Regions from separate parts of the Homo sapiens genome. Here region 2 is linked to region 1. The links come from fine-mapping of genetic effects on gene expression. Tissue or cell type: prefrontal cortex. Region 1 holds a variant in brackets; the other region holds the start of a gene. All regions are shown on one strand. Distances are between the middles of the regions.

Region 1 (8,073 bases):
TGCAGTCACAGTGACCTCTGAGAATCACAGATCTCAGGAGCTGGCTTAAAATTATTCCTAAGTAACCATTCAATGGGCCAAGCCCAGATTTCATATTAAAGTTTTATAAGATTCTATATGATCTTGCCCAACCTTGCTTCCTTCCTACATACAAACCTATTGAACATCTTTCTCTCTCCATTCTTTTCTAACTTCCTATCCACTCTACCACCATCCTGCTTCACCAGAGTGTGGCACGCTTTCTCCTCCCTTTGGGTCATACGTAAATGCTGTTAATTATTACATGGCATGTGCTCTTTCTCCTTCCTTATCAGTTTTTAATTTTTTATTGCTGTTGTTCTCTTTATCCTGGCTAATTCCTATTCAATATCCAAGATACACCCCAGCAATGACCTTCTCTTGAAAGATGAATTCTAGAAAGGTGGACTTGAGGACCCTTTCATGGGCCATGTATATTAACAATCCTAGCATTCAGTTCACTGGATTTTGATTTTCTTTTCTTACCTGCTGCTATTTTGGAGAAATTGCCGACTCCCTTCAGTGGGTTAGGTCTAATTTTAGTTATTTGTAATGAAGGATGAGACAAAATTCTGGACCATGGAGAGGTGGAAACTTGTCAAAGAGCTTTTCTGCCGTTGATTTATTTATTAACTACTCTGAGTGAGAAGAAATAGTATTTAAGGCGAATCTCATAAGTTTTAGCCATTTGTCAGTGAGAAATTTTAAGTCTAAGCAAGCAATTTTGGGCTCTCCACCTTTTTTTAAAGGTTAGAGTGACATAGGAGTATGACAAAGTGAGTAATTCAAAAGAGGATGAAGAAATTCACCCTTCTCAATACCTTCTCCAGGGCAGAATGACTAATAGTGGTATAATCTAGCCATAATTCTATTACCTCATTTGAGGCATGCTTAACAAATAAGAACTGGTATTTAGTGGCAACATTAAAACAGAGCAAAGGAGTAGTTTTTGGATAAAAGGTGTTACAACAGAAACTTTGGTATATATAGCATGGTGTATTTTTTGCAATATTTGTTACTTATGATTTTTGTGATGTTCGCACAGATTACTGTGACTAACTTAATAATTAATAATCATAGTTTGTAATTTTATTTTTACATGGGGCAGAGGACACATTTTTTTGTCTGGCAATTTTGGGCGGCATTTTCTGTCCCATAAATAGGATTGTATCACGGGCCACCTCCATTCCTCTATGCCCAGGCTGTGAGCATCTTGAAGGCAGGAACTGTATAAATACTTCTTTAGTCAAGGTAATAGCACAGACCTTACATGAGGTAAATGTTCAATATGTATTTGTTGAATAAATGAATGAATGAAGGGTACCTTTCTTTTCCCCCTTGTCGAGGCCACCTACTGGTGTGGCTGGTAGATGGCAGAACAACATTTCAGCACTTCTGACATCTTGTTCTTGTCTATGCTAAGATAAACTATCCATGGGCTGGGTGACAGTATCTTTGGAAAGCTGATTAATCTATTCTTGACCTTGAACTCTTTCTCTTAGCAGGTTTGACAGGCTATTTTCTACAAAAGAAAATAACACACAAGTTCTTAAGGAACTGCACCTGGGTGGTATCTGCAAGACAAAGGCAGCTCCCAGTGAATCCTCTCTCCTCAGACGGTGTAACCAGAAGCTCCTGTAATAAAAGAACATATAAAGTAAATTTGAATGGGGTAGTAGAGATAAAAGGGCAAGGATGTGAGCTGAACTTGTGTTTTTAGCAACTTGCAATGCTTGCTGCTAATTAAACAAAAGTCCCTACTTGAACAATCAAGTAGGAAATGTGATTAATGGAAGGCAGTATGAAACTGGAAGCACCCAGTTTCTCTTTCTGGGCTAGTTTGGATTTTCTGATCCCCGAACAACATCTGGGAGAAGGCCCAGCATTCTAAATATTTTTGCATATTGATTAGTTCAACAAATAACTGAAGGCCAGATATGTGCTAGGAAGTCTTCTGGATGCTGAGGGTAGAGCAGTGAACAACACATGGTTTATATTCCAAAGCTTATCTGACTCAGGTTTTCTCCTACAATGCTCCTACCTACCAGCTAAAGAATTGAGATTTTAAACTACTAATAATATATTTGTTTTTCTGCTTAGATTTTCTGGTCCTTGGAAAAATGCTATATTTGGGGAAAACTGCTTTCTAGGACGCTGGACATAGTGATTGGTAATGTCTGCACACTTACTCTGACTGTTCCCCCTGGGTAAGAAGGTAGCCCCGCCCATAGTGAAGATGTATCCCCTGAAGCATGCTGTATTAGTCCGTTATCACACTGCTATAAAGAACTGCCAGAGACTGGGTAATTTAGAAAGGAAAGAGGTTTTAATTGACTCACTGTTCCGCATGGCTGGGGAGGCCTCAGGAAACTTACAATCCTGGCGAAAAGCAAAGAGGAAGCAAGGCACTTCCTTTACAAGGCGGCAGGAGGGAAAATGAAGGCAAGAGGAACTACCAAACACTTTAAAACCATCAGATCTCGTGAGAACTCACTCACTATCACGAGAACAGCACGGGGAAAACCACCCCCATGATTCAATTACCTATACCTGGTCTCTTCCTTTACACCTGGGGATTATATGGATTACAATTCAAGATGAGATTTTGGGTGGGGACACAGCCAAACCATATCACACATATTGTGCTAGTTTTTCCAGATAATGGTAGAAGTCTAAATGGACTGTAGGGCAACACAAAATCAAGCTCCAGACCTGGCCAGGCGCAGAGAGACTCACCTGAGCAGGGCAAAGCCATGTGCACTGAGACCTGTGGCATCTAATTCTTTTCTGGGGGCCACCTCTGTGTGTCCCTGGCACTTACAGTGTGCACATGTGTGTGGCCGCTATCTGGCCATCCATATAATTCACTGTGCCTAAAACACTGCAAATAGTCAACTCGTGTTAATTTCTCTTCTTTGTTTTTGAAGGAGAATATATTTTCTGTATCTTTAGTTTCTTTAACTCAACACATATTTACTGCTTATTTACAACCTGTGTAGTGTGAAGGGTTGGGAATGCTGTATTTTCTGGGGAAGGACTGGGCTCTTAGAATACAGACAAGGGAGGGGTCTTTGTACTGTAATTCCTTGTCCTTAATTTTCTAAGTGAATGGATAAGAGGAAAAGGAAAAATCTGTTCAGTGAGACCTGGCTTTATTTTGGTTGGTGTGTCTCCATTGTGCCATCTGACTTTGACAATGACAGTTAAAGGTACCTATCTTCCTATGAACTTGTATCATCTATTCTTCATCATCACTGGTATCATCACAATGAGAAAAAAATAAGGTCTAGAGGAGATGTCTGTCAATCAGTTTTCAAGTTCATCTCTGTTGTAGCAGTGAGCAGACCTTCTCTTCCTGTCAATCGCCTTTTGTAACCTGAAGAAAAGGGAAAGTTACTGACTGACACCAAGGAGAATTTCTTTACATTCCATTCTCAGTATCCAAGGGACTCTGGGATTTGAGACCATAAAATTAGTGTCAATTTGAGGCCTTTCTGAGAGAAGAAGGAAAAAAAATGGAGATTACCTGAATTCATCTTCCACGGGGCCCATTGCTAACATCCAATCATAGCGGCTGTCAGTCACAGAGAAGGGCATATATTTCAATGACTGGGTATCTCTTTAATTATAGAAATGAATAATCGGGCTCCCCCAGCTCTCTTCTTAACAGCTACAGCCCATGAAATGAAAGGTTTGAACTTGAAGGATCAACACAAACAGAATTTGCAGCAATTTCTATTACTGGTTTCTTTTCTTATTGTCTGAACACAGTATTTC[C/G]TTACTGACAGAGGAAATGAATGAGGTCTGGAAACGTTTTTTCTAAGCTTCAGTGGTATTTAACGGCATTCCCTTCACCTTCTCAGGCTTTGTGGTTGTGAACAGCATCAGAAATTGATGATCTTTTCTTTAAAGATACAAATTGCTTTAAAAATCTTCTCCAAACTGTAAAAAAGTAGAGAACATTTAAGTTTTTGAGTTATCATAGAATTAGCAAACATTGTTATCATACTCACTTTGAATCAAATAAATATTTTTCATCCTATTGTTGATGATTCCTACATTATTTAGTGGTAATTTTGGGGAGACATATATCCAGAATAGTTAAGATTGAAAGAAATTGATTTTCATACTTTGTATTCTTTAGTTTTTCCCTGGGGAGTATAAAGAGGTTAATCCAGTGTTTTACACTTAAAAATTACTCTGTTGGCCCCGGGCGCAGTGGTTCACGCGTGTAATCCCAGCACTTTGGGAGGGCAAGGCGGGCAGATCACTTGAGGTCAGGGGTTCAAGACCAGCCTGGCCAACATGGTGAAACTCTGTCTCTACTAAAAACACAAAAATTAGCCGGGCGTTTTGGCGGGCGCCTGTAATCCCAGCTACTCGTGCGGCTGAGGCAGGAGAATTGCTTGAACCTGGGAGGCAGACGTTGCAGTGAGCTGAGATCATGCCACTGCACTGCAGCCTGGGAGACAGAATGAGAGTCAGTCTCAAAAAAATATATTACTCTGTTACTGTCATGATGACTTTTCTGCTATGATAGCATTGCTCCAGTTAGTAATTTACTGAGCACCTACTATGCACAACAGTGTGAAGAATATGAGAGTTGATCATGCTTTACCTAAAGAAATTAGTGGCCAGTATGAAAATAAATACAATGAAACATTTATAAAAGTAATGAGTATACTGAGAGGGACAGAGATAAAGCCCTTTGGAAGTTTAGAAGCCTGAGAAATAAATGCCTCTGGATAAAATCATGGAAGACTTCCTGGGCGCAAATTGGCATTTATACAGGCTCTTTGGATGTTAAGTACAATTTCACAAGTAAATAATCAGTGAAGGAAAAGTGGAGTGAGAAAAAAGTGTTACAGTGAAACAAGATGTATAAATTGTACAAGATGTGTAAATTGTATAAGAATGACAGTAAAAGTATTCACCAACAGAGATCCAGCATGTATTGTCAGAGCTTTTAATTTCAGGATAAGTAGTTGGTGGAACTTTTGGTTTATTTTATTTATATTTAACTTTTATTTTCACTTCAGGGCTACATGTGCACGTTTGTTATATAAGTAAATTTCATGTCGTGGGAGTTTGTTATACAGATTATTTCGTCACATAGGTAAGGCATAGTACCTGATAAGTAGGTTTTTGATCCTCACCCTCCTCAAACCCTCCTCTCTCAAGTAGACTCTGGTTTCTGTTGTTCCCTTTATTGTACTCAGGTGTACTCAATGTTTAACTCCCACTTATAAGTGAGAAAAAGTAGTATTTGATTTCTGTTCCTGTCTTAGTTCACTTAGGATAATGGCCTCCAGCTCCATCCATGTTGCTGCAAAGGACATGATCTCATTCTTTTTTATGGCTGCATAGTATTCCATGGTGTATATGTACCACATTTTCTTTATCCAAAAATGATAGATGCTGGTGAGGTTGCACAGAAAAGGAATGCTTATACACTGCTGGTAGGAATGTAAATCAGTTCAGCCACTGTAAAAAGCAGTTTGTTGATTTCTCAAAATCTTAAGATAGAACTACCATTCAACCCAGCAATCCATTATGGTATATATTCCCCCAAAAACATAAATCATTCTACCATAAAGAGACATACAAGCATTTATTCACTGCTGCACTACTCACAATAGCAAAGACATGAAATCAACCTAAATGCCCATTGACTTTTGTTGTCTTAGGTAAACAGAATCCATGAATTGTTTGGGAACAATGAAAGGATATGATTAAAATACTTTCAGAAGATTAATTTGATTATTATTCTCATGCTTTTAGAAGAGTTCAATTTGCTGTCAGCTTTCCGGCATGGAAATTTCTACTAAGATATACTTATGTAATATTATTAACATATTATAATATGCAAATATAATATTATAATATATTATATTAAATATGTAATATTATTAATGTAATAGTAAGTTATTATACTATATTATAGTTATATATTATAATATACATATTTCCTGTCTGCAAGTTTGGAGAATATTAAAGAAATACTCAAGAAATAACTTCCAGTAGTAGTATAAAAACATCGTCTAATAAAATTCAAGTGTGTGTGTGTGTGTGTGTGTGTGTATTTTTTTCTTTCTATTTTCACACTTTGTCAGTTCAAATATCAGGGCACTTTGTCTATGAAGAATCAGGAAACATTTAAATAGTATATGTAAGAGAGAAATAGCTTCAGAATGTAAACTAACAAAAAATATTTATGTTAAGCTACCTTATCTAAACATTTTACAAAATTTTCTCTAAGCTTTTGAAAAATCTAATAGGAATTTAGAAAATAGCATTGTGAGGACTTGCATTTTTTTTTTTTTTTTTTTTGAGACGGAGTCTCGCTCTGTAGCCCAGGCTGGAGTGCAGTAGCGTGATCTCGGCTCACTGAAAGCTCCGCCTCCCGGGTTCATGCCATTCTCCTGCCTCAGCCTCCCGAGTAGCTGGGGATACAGGCGCCCACCACCACGCCCAGCTAATTTTTTGTGTTTTTAGTAGACATGGGGTTTCACCATGTTAGCCGGGATGGTCTCGATCTCCTGACCTCGTGATCCGCCCGCCTCGGCCTCCCAAAGTGCTGGGATTACAGGCGTGAGCCACCGTGCCCGGCGGTACATTGTTTTATTAAAGCACAAAAACCCATATCAAGCACTAGACTGAAGGAGATCCTTGTTTCTACTGCAGAGCTAAAATCTCATTCACACATTATTAAATTACCTAAATCATATCTATAAAGTTGAATACCCCGTTTTGTATGTAAACAAATGCAATTGAGAATTGGAAAAGATACTGATTTTATGGGGCACTGATTACATTACTCAGCACCCTTTCCTAACACTAAAATCCAGGATATTCTAAGTCCAATCAATATTAATATTACATAATAATGACTGATCTTTTTGGTGAGTAAAGCCTTTTCATACTAATAATCTCAGGCTTTCCTGATGAATCAAGACTTTTTTGGCTTGAAACGTTGCATTAAAAATCTGTAGATAACTTTAGACTGACTTACTTCTATTAATAGTGTCAGGTGAACTTTTAAAAGTCACTGTTTGCAATAGATTGACCAAAGAGGGTAGGAAACATTTATTCAGCTCTTAAACACTTTATTTTATTACAGGCTTTTTTTTTTCCTTAGCTAAGTAACTGATTTCAAGGAACATAAATATTTCATATGCAAATACCTCCCAAAATGGGCATCTTAGGTAATTTAGAGAAGCTAGAAGGAAATGCATGCTAAACATTTTATTATATTTTAGCAAATTTCTGAAGTAATTAGGGTAGAGTATTAGAATGCACATCCCTAAAAATACGTTTATTCTTTTTAATTATAGGTATTTGGAATTTATGTCCACACTGTGTGTAGTTATATTCCATTAAATGCTAAGACGATAATGTGCAAAGCTTCCAGAATTTGGAGGGATTAGGTAGAGACTGTCGATTCAAGCAATTTGATCTAAATTCTAAAAGATTAAAAAGTTGAAATTGTCAGAAAGGCTAATGTTTTCATTGTGATATGGTTACTCTCTGGCATGGAAGATATATCTTTTATAGATTATAAAAATACTCCAAAAAAATTCTGTTAAAGTAATTAGAAAAAATTTCTCTGTCACTAGCGCTTTACATAAAAGAAAACAAACAAAAAATAAATCATGCATTGTTAAACATTATCTATACTTTCTCTGACATTATTTTATAGAATTTTGACCTATAAAATGAAAATTTTCAGGAAAATTTTAGAACCAGATAACAAGTTTAATTATGTATAAGTAAATTACAGCACACTAATTACTACCGAGATAAATCTATTTCTCAAATATATTACTTAAATCAGTATTTTTTCTGAGAAATGGACAAAGTACTTAAAAGAGATAAAAATAAAGCAGGAATCCTTTCTGTATTATAAATATAAGAAGAAAAATCATCAAGTACATTTCTTGTTTCCAATTTAGCTGAAGAAAGTATCAACGATTTAATTAATAGAGTAAATTAACCCCACAGACAATGGTCGGCAGTAGGATTGTGGGCATTTCTAGGCTTTTTTAAAAAAAGATT
Region 2 (8,073 bases), 990 kb before region 1:
TTTTTTGCTGACCAAAAATAATCCCTCTCTTATAGATGATAGACAGATACACAAATACATAGATACATATAGATAGATGTATAAACATACATATACATATATACACGTACATGTGCACAAACACACACACACAGAATCTCTCTTCACACAGTTTTCAGACATTGTCTTTCATTTCAAATTCTTGAGGGATAACACCTCAATGTAACACCCATGTAGTGAAAAGCGGGGTAGGGGCTGCTAGATTTGAATCCCAATTGCAGCATTTATCTGTTTGAACAAATTATAAATTCTCTAAATCTTTTTCTCATGCATAATAATGCCTACTTTGCAGGATTAATCTAAAAACAGAGAAACCTTATTTTCAGTGAAAATACAGAATGTAGTGTGTAGTACAGAATAGAAGGTCAGCAAATATTATCATACCAAGTTTGATCTCACTAACTAGACAATATCCTTTTATTTATTCCTAGGTCTTTATCTTCCTTTATTTTCTGGCCCTTTTCTACTATGTTCCATCTTTTCTTATTCCATACCCTTTCCCTAACATGTCAAATAATGAGACTAAAAACAATTCTATTTAATTTTTGACAGCTTGTTTTACTCAAAAAACTTTGAAGAGTAAAAGAGGATGGGTTTACATGTTATGTTTCCTGAAAAAAAAAATGTGTTCTCTTGAATTTTCCAGTGATACCCTTTTTTATTTTTTTGGGAGCTTAAGTTTTACTAGATTTTTTGTGCACAGAAATAATCGAAGTTCACAATTTTAGGCTAGGGTATTTCTGTCAGCACCAGCAAACCTGGCATTGTTGGACTTCTTACAGGGGGGCCAGAAGCTGCAGTCTGTTCTCCCTCAGTACTCCTCTATCTTTGAGTAAACCCCACTGCTTCCTTGATAACCTGCCCCTCCACACTCCTCCTGTTTATTTATATTTTCATGTATTCATTCTATCAACAAACATTTTTGAAGAGACTTTTATGTGCCAAGTACAGTGCTAAACAGATGAGAAATAACAGGCATAGTCTTGAAGTTAGCTAAAGGAGCGAATAGACTCATGGAGAGAAAGCCAACTGTTCCACTTTAGTGCAGAGTTGTTAAAGGATATAACGGGGTAATTAAGTGACACCACAGGGACTTTTAGGGGATGCCCAACTTAGTGTTGTGGGGTTGAGGGGAGACTTCCCTAAAAAGTAACACTTGAGGTTGAGGGCTGTTAGCAGAAGTAGGAGAAAGCCAGGCAACTAGGGATATTTCCTTCTAACTTCTATCTCCTCCCATGCACGGATTATTCTGGTCTTGGCTGAGAGACTTCTCTTCCTAATGTTCTGCAGTCATCCTGGCTGACTTCAACATCCATGCAGAAGGCCCAACCAACACCCAAACTTCTATTTCACCATTTCCTCAACACCAGTGACCTTTGCCTGTTTTCTCTATCAAAATATGAACATGCCAATGGCAAACCCTTTTTCAGCCAAAATGTATTAGGATTTATGTAATTGAATTCTCTGAATATTAAGCTATGTTTATTTTCCTTCTCTGCCCCCCCCAAATTAACTTTTCTGATTTTTCTTATACCATTAAATTTCTTCATCTCAGAATCTCTGCTTTTAGAGGGAGAGGATCTCTTACTTCTTTGCCCAGTCCTTAAATGTTTCTTATGCTTAGAAATCTATTATACTTCTTCCAACTCACTCTACATATTTTCCAGAGAATGGATCAGTAGTGCTCTACATGCTGACATCTTCCAAATATTTATTTATAGCTGGGATTCCTCCCTTGAATTGTCAACCTCTAATTATATAAATTGCTTGGGTATTTCTCTTGCACATATCACTGGTGACTTAGAGACAATTTGTCTAACTTGAACTCATAATCTTCTTCCCTTCCCAACTTTGTTATACCTTACTTTACATCCTCAGTTGTTCCCTTTCTCTGAAAGATGTCACTATTGACCTTGTAGTTCAATTCGGAAATATATAACCTTTTCTCCCAATACTCATATGGAATTAATCATCAAGTTCTCCCAGGACTTGCCTATTAATATATCTAGAGGCCAGCTACTTCTCAGCAGTCCTGGCACTACTCTTTTAGTTTGAGTAACCACCCCTTTTTGTTAGTTTTGTGTCATTCTATTTGTAACAGGTCCATTTTTGTTCCCATTTATTCTTTACCTTTCTTGTAAGATCATTACAGTTCCCCACAACATTAACCTCAGCCTTGGCGATTTGGCTATCTTTGGTTACTGTAAAGAGAATTGGTATATATGGTTTTAAATTAGAAACTTGCTATCCCATGACTTAGCCATAGAGTTACCTTTTTATTGTAAGGTAAAACATAGATGCAGAAAACACAGACACAGATACAGAAAACAAAATATAATAAGTATGTGACTAAGAAAAAAAAACATTTGTAAAAAAAAACCGAGATCAAGAAATAGAATTAGACTAGGGACTTGAGGCCATGAGAAGGTGGCTGTCTGCAAGCCAGGAAGAAAGATCTCACCAGAAACCAACTGTGCTGGCACTTTAATCGTGGACTTTGAGCCTCCAGAACTGTGAGAAAATAAATTTCTGTTGTTTAAGCCACCCAGACTGAAGCATTCAGCTATGGCAGCCCAAGCAGATTGACACACATGGGCGGGTAGGTAACCAAAGCAGACTGTATGACTGTATTAGAGTATAGGGACATTGAGGGAGATACATGAACTCTATTTTTCTGGGCCAACCAGCTTTAAGAATCAAACTCTGGAACTACTAGAAGCCACTATTCCTGGCACATAGAAAAACCTGCTAATGTATAATAAATATATCAAAGCTGAGGGATGGTGATGAGTGGATGAGGGATAGTGATGAGTGGATGAGGGAGGTGAGGAGGAGGAGAGACAGAGAGAGAAGCAGATGCATTGTTTGAAATTCCAGATGCAGTCATGTCAGAAGCCACAATGCCCACTGGGTTTCTTAGTTACGCGAGGCAATAAATCCCCTTCCCTTCTCTGCTTCCTTCTTTAAATTTAATGATTCTTTCTTCTTATACATAATGATTCTGTTTTAATGAGGTCTTCCTCATATACCCTCAGTAAGAACATGAGTGAAGGCAGAAAATGAGCTCACAAGAGCAAGAGCAGTAGGCAGCTATTTGAGAAGGGTAGGTAAGCAGGCTTCAGAACATGCCCTTACATGGTATTTAGATTACTGAAACAAGGGGAGAGAATGGTGAGTGGGTAAAAAGAAATCAAAGATTCAACTAAGATCAGACTTTATGTCTACAAAAGATCATTTCTGGTAGTTCTCCAAATACATATCAGTATTATTTATTTAAATTACTTGAAACCCACTTCTTTAGGCATTGTTATTAAAGAGAAAAAGCTCCTTTGTCAGCATTCTTTACACCATTAATAACCTTCCATACCCTGTTATACTCTCCCTTGGTTAAGGCCACTAAATAATTGCTTTATTTGCATATTTGTACCATGTCCACCTCATTATGGATAATCAATGCACCTTATTAATAGCATCAGTATCAAAAAAGAGAGAAAAATCATATAATTTACCAATGACAAAACAAATTTACCAAGATCTGTGGTAATTTCCTTCTAATTCCTAAGTCAAAGCACTGACTTTGAGACAGTGCATATGGTTTTTAGACCTCTACAGGAGACAAGAAATTATAAAATTCACAGGCAAATTGTGGCTACTGCACTAGCTAACATTTAATCTGTGATGACTACATACTCCTCGTGACTTTAAGAGCTTTAAGTATTTTAACTCATTTAATTCTTAGAACATTGCTATGAGTTCTGTAATACTATTGTTGTTTACCGAAGAGGAAACTGAGGCACAGAAAGCCCAAGCTCTTGCACAAGGATCAGAAGGGGGTATAACCAGAATTTGTTTCTCAGCATCCTGACCAACAATTATTTTACCTACTAAACAGGGAAGCCTTTCAAATATAATCCAGGGTATCCGCTTCATTTTACAACTAAAGAAATGAAGGCTGGGTAAGGATAAAGGACTCACAAAGATCGTGTGTTTAGGTAATGATTGAACTATGACAGAAACTCCCATTCTCCAGATTTCCAATTCTGAACTCTCCCTTCTCTGTCTATAATAAAGTTCTCCAAACCAAAAATATATAGTGACTTCAATCATCTAGGGACCTAACATTTCTTACCATTTTGAAGTGGCTTTGTAATGTTTAACTTGGCTAGTCTGAACTTCGTTTTCTGGAATTTCCTTTCTTGTATGCTTCTGTTTAGGATGGACCACAAAGACATTCTTCTGTGAGACTTAGAGAAAGGAAGCAAAACAGGCACCATGTTGTTGCTCACATATGTTGCTGCTGATCTTTCAACTGACCTCATTGGCATGAGGCTACAGCTGGGCCTGAGACTGCTCTATATTTTCTTAAATTGTCCTTCAGTTTCTTTGATTCTTGGGCCAAGTGTGTGTGTTTAACTTCATGATGAAAAACTTCAACTACTTCAGATCATCCGTGCCAAAAATTTCAGAGGCAGTGAGAACATACACAGGTTTCAATGTAAATTCTCACTGGGTTTCAGCCTATGCCTGTAGCTTCCAGCTTCTTCTAAATCTCCCTGACTTTACATATGTCTTTCATTACTGGCTTCCCAGCCACTCCAGTCATTATATAATGGGCTCATAAATAAAGTGGCCATCATGGCAGGAATCAAGGTTATCTATGGCATCACCAACATGAATTTTCTTTCACCCAAGCCAATATAGCTACAGCCATTGCCGAATACCCCGAATTGCAGGAATGGGGCCATTCCTGCAATATGGCCCCATTTCCTGAAGGATCAGCCAGCTACCTGTTGCCAGGTTAATTACATTGGGCCACTTCTGTCATTGTAGGCACAGCATTTTGTTTTCACTGGTCAAGCTATTAATCTGGATATAGATTTGCCTTCTTACTTGCAGTGCATCTTCAAACTGTCCACAGATTTACAGGATATCTTATTCACCATATTCCACATAGCATCATTTCTGACCAAGAAACTCATTTCACAGCAAATAAAGTGCAGCAATACACCCAAACCCATGGAATTTACTGGTCTAATCATATTCTCTATTGTGCTGAAGCAGCTAGCTTGATGGACTGATGAAATGGCCCTTTCAAGTCTTATTCATGACAGCATCTGGGTGGCAACATAATGCAGGGCTAGAAAAATGTCCTCCAGGATAAAATATGTGCATTAAATCAGCATATGGTATATGACGTTGTTTCTCTAACAACTAGGATTTACATATCTAGGAACCAAGGGGTAGAAATAAGAATGCTTCCTCTGAACATTATCCCTAGCAATCCAATAACTGGATTTTTGTCTTCCATCCTTACCACTTCAGTTTCTGCTGGTCTAGACATCTGGGTTCCAAAAGAAGAATGCATCTCCCAGGAGACATGACAATGATTCCATTCAACAGGAAGTTGAGACTGCCACCTGAACACTTTGGGCTCCTCATGCCTCTGAATCAACGGGCAAAGAAGAGAGTTATAGATCCTAACCACCCAGGAGAAATTCGGTGGCCACTACACAAACAGAGTAAGAGGAGCATTTCTATGATGCGGGAGATCCTCTAGAATGTTTGTTGGTATTCCCAGGTCCTGTGATTAAAGTATGTGGAAAACTATAGCAGCCCAATTCAGGATGTTTCCAGATACTTCAGTAAGTGAGAACTGTGTCACTACGCCACATTGACCAGTTGAGAGGCTAGCTCAGTGCAAAGAAAATATGAAATGAGTAGGGGAAGAAGGTAGCTATAAACATCAGTTATGGCCACATGACCAATTATAGAAACAAGACTAGAATAGTGTGAGTACTTATTTCTTATTTTGGTATAACTATGTTTGTATTTGTATTAACCAAGTATCTCCCTTTTCTTTCTCTTTCTTCTTATCAAAGATGTATTAATAGTAATTAAATTTATATCATAGTCTTGAAATTACAAGATATCCAACTTGAAGCATGCATTGGGAGAAGAATAAATATCATCCAAAGACAAAAAAACAACAACACGACGTTGTGTTCTACTAAAAGGAAAAAAGCCTATTTTCAGATGTACTTAGAAGAGATACACCATGTTAGGTGGAAGTTTGACTTTGTCATGATCTTTTGTGTAGTCTAAGTATGATTTAAGATGTTTATGAGTGCCAAATTGGTAAGGAGTGGATTGTGCTGGCTCTGCAAACTATGTCAGCTTGGCTGTACTGGGCTACATTTCCCAGAGTACCCTTCCCTGTATATCTCCACTTAGGGTGGGCCAAGAGAGATTCTTGCAGGCGATTTAGTGGGTGGAAGTAAAGCAACAACTATTTTATATCTTGCACATATTTTTGTCAGTCTGGTTAAATTATTGATGTGAGGCATGAGGTGGACCTACAACTAGTGCACCTTCCCTTTGATATTTCTTCAGCTTTTCTGACTCTGCGGCCAGGTGTTTGTATTTAACTCCACGGTGAGGAGACTCATCTTCTGACGGACCTAACCTATACCATCAAGGTCAGAGGCAACAAGAAATGGCATGCATTTCAGTTTATTGTTCTGTGGCTCCAGCTTGTATATTTTAACTCTAGATTTTTTTTTACTTTCCCCACTTTACAATCATCTTCCCTTTCCAACTACCTTCCTTGTGGACTTCAAGCTCCAGCACCACAAGCAAAGACAAAAACCTTGCGGAAACTATTTAACTAACTCCCACAATTGCATAAGGTAAGATTCATGTAACAATTGTATAGATCTGCCTATTGATCTCCTAATGGTTTTCTTCTCTGATTAAATTCTGGATACAAATGGACTATAATTAAATTGCATTCAGTTAAATTGCTTTAATGAAATACTTGTATAAAATTGCTAATATTAAAGGAAAGAAAAATATTTGTTATTTGGCCACCATGACAATATTCTACTTCCTCTACATGGCCTCAGTGTGTCAACATAGATCTACTTATTTAAAAAGCATTGTTAAAATTACCAATGACTTAAATTTACTTAAGCCACTTAAGTAAATACATCTAAACACATACTCATATGAAAACATACCTCTAATGATATTGTCACTATTTTAGCTGCAGATGTTTTATAATAAAATCTCCTTTTCTGTGTTCAAGGCAGTTACATAAAATAAACATCTTTTTTTAATTTATTTATCTATTTTTTGAGACAGAGTATCACTCTGTTGCCAGGCTGGAGTGCAGTGGCACAATCTCGGCTCACTGCAACCTCCGCCTCCCAGGTTCAAGTGATTCTCCTGCCTCAGCCTCCCAAGTAGCTGGGACTACAGGTGCGTGCCACCATGCTCAGCTAATTTTTTTAATTTTTACTAGAGGCGGGGTTTCACCGTGTTTGTCTGGATTGTTTCAATCTCTTGACCTCGTGATCCACCTGCCTTGGCCTCCAAAAATGCTGGGATTACAGGTGTGAGCCAACGCGCCCCGCCAATAAACATTATTATTAAGCCCTTTAAAGAGAGTGAGGAAACTGAGGCTTAGAATTAATTCTCTCTCCAAATCACACAGCAAGTAAACGGTAGGATACATTGATTACAGAATATTTAATTCCATATGCTACCCATCTGTGTTCAAAATCCTACATTGGTATTCAGAATAAATGAGTTTTGCTGTGAGAATTAAAAATGACATTGCACAAAGCCTTGAGTTTATAGGTCTTCAACATGTATGCTTGGAAAATTTTAGTTGTTGATATTATGATTATCATTATTAATATTTATATCTGACAGCTCTTGGCATGATTGTCCTATAATTAGCTTTATGTATCTTGTCATGTCTATCCAGTAATACCGTAAACCCAGCACTCCAGGGGGCAGCAAATGTGTAGCAGATTACTTACTTAGATTGAGATTGGCTGGGCTCAGCCATTTGCCAATCATATGTTTTTGATAAAATTAAGTGTTAAAAGCTTGGTTCCCTCACCTGTAATCTGGGTATATTAGTAATGGTTACCTTATATGCTGTTGTTTAAGTTTCATTTTAAGAGCAATGGGAAGCCACTAAAGTGTTTTAAAAAGGAGAATTCCCGTTTACTCTTTTAAAAGATTGCT

Alleles and levels. Positions count from the first base shown, and alleles are read on the strand shown. Sizes are in standard deviations (SD) of each study's normalised expression.
With allele G in place of C in region 1, the expression in prefrontal cortex of the gene that starts at base 3,688 in region 2 is higher (moderate effect, 0.47 SD a copy in CommonMind).

Evidence for each region. PIP is the estimated chance that this variant, and not a neighbour inherited with it, causes the effect.
Region 2: LINC01938 starts here. The variant in region 1 is fine-mapped to the expression of LINC01938 in prefrontal cortex (CommonMind, PIP 0.95).

What each region holds. Positions count from the first base shown.
Region 1 is chr5:164,249,326-164,257,398 of GRCh38, reverse strand. No RefSeq gene overlaps it. Among named protein-coding and RNA genes, the nearest start is that of LINC03000, 43 kb to the left of the region's middle. The variant C/G (reference allele first, on the strand shown) is at 3,796.
Region 2 is chr5:165,239,114-165,247,186 of GRCh38, reverse strand. LINC01938 (long intergenic non-protein coding RNA 1938) reads left to right here and starts at 3,688. Exons shown (of 5, transcript NR_183276.1): 1 at 3,688-4,031; 2 at 5,362-5,558; 3 at 6,430-6,515; 4 at 6,658-6,725.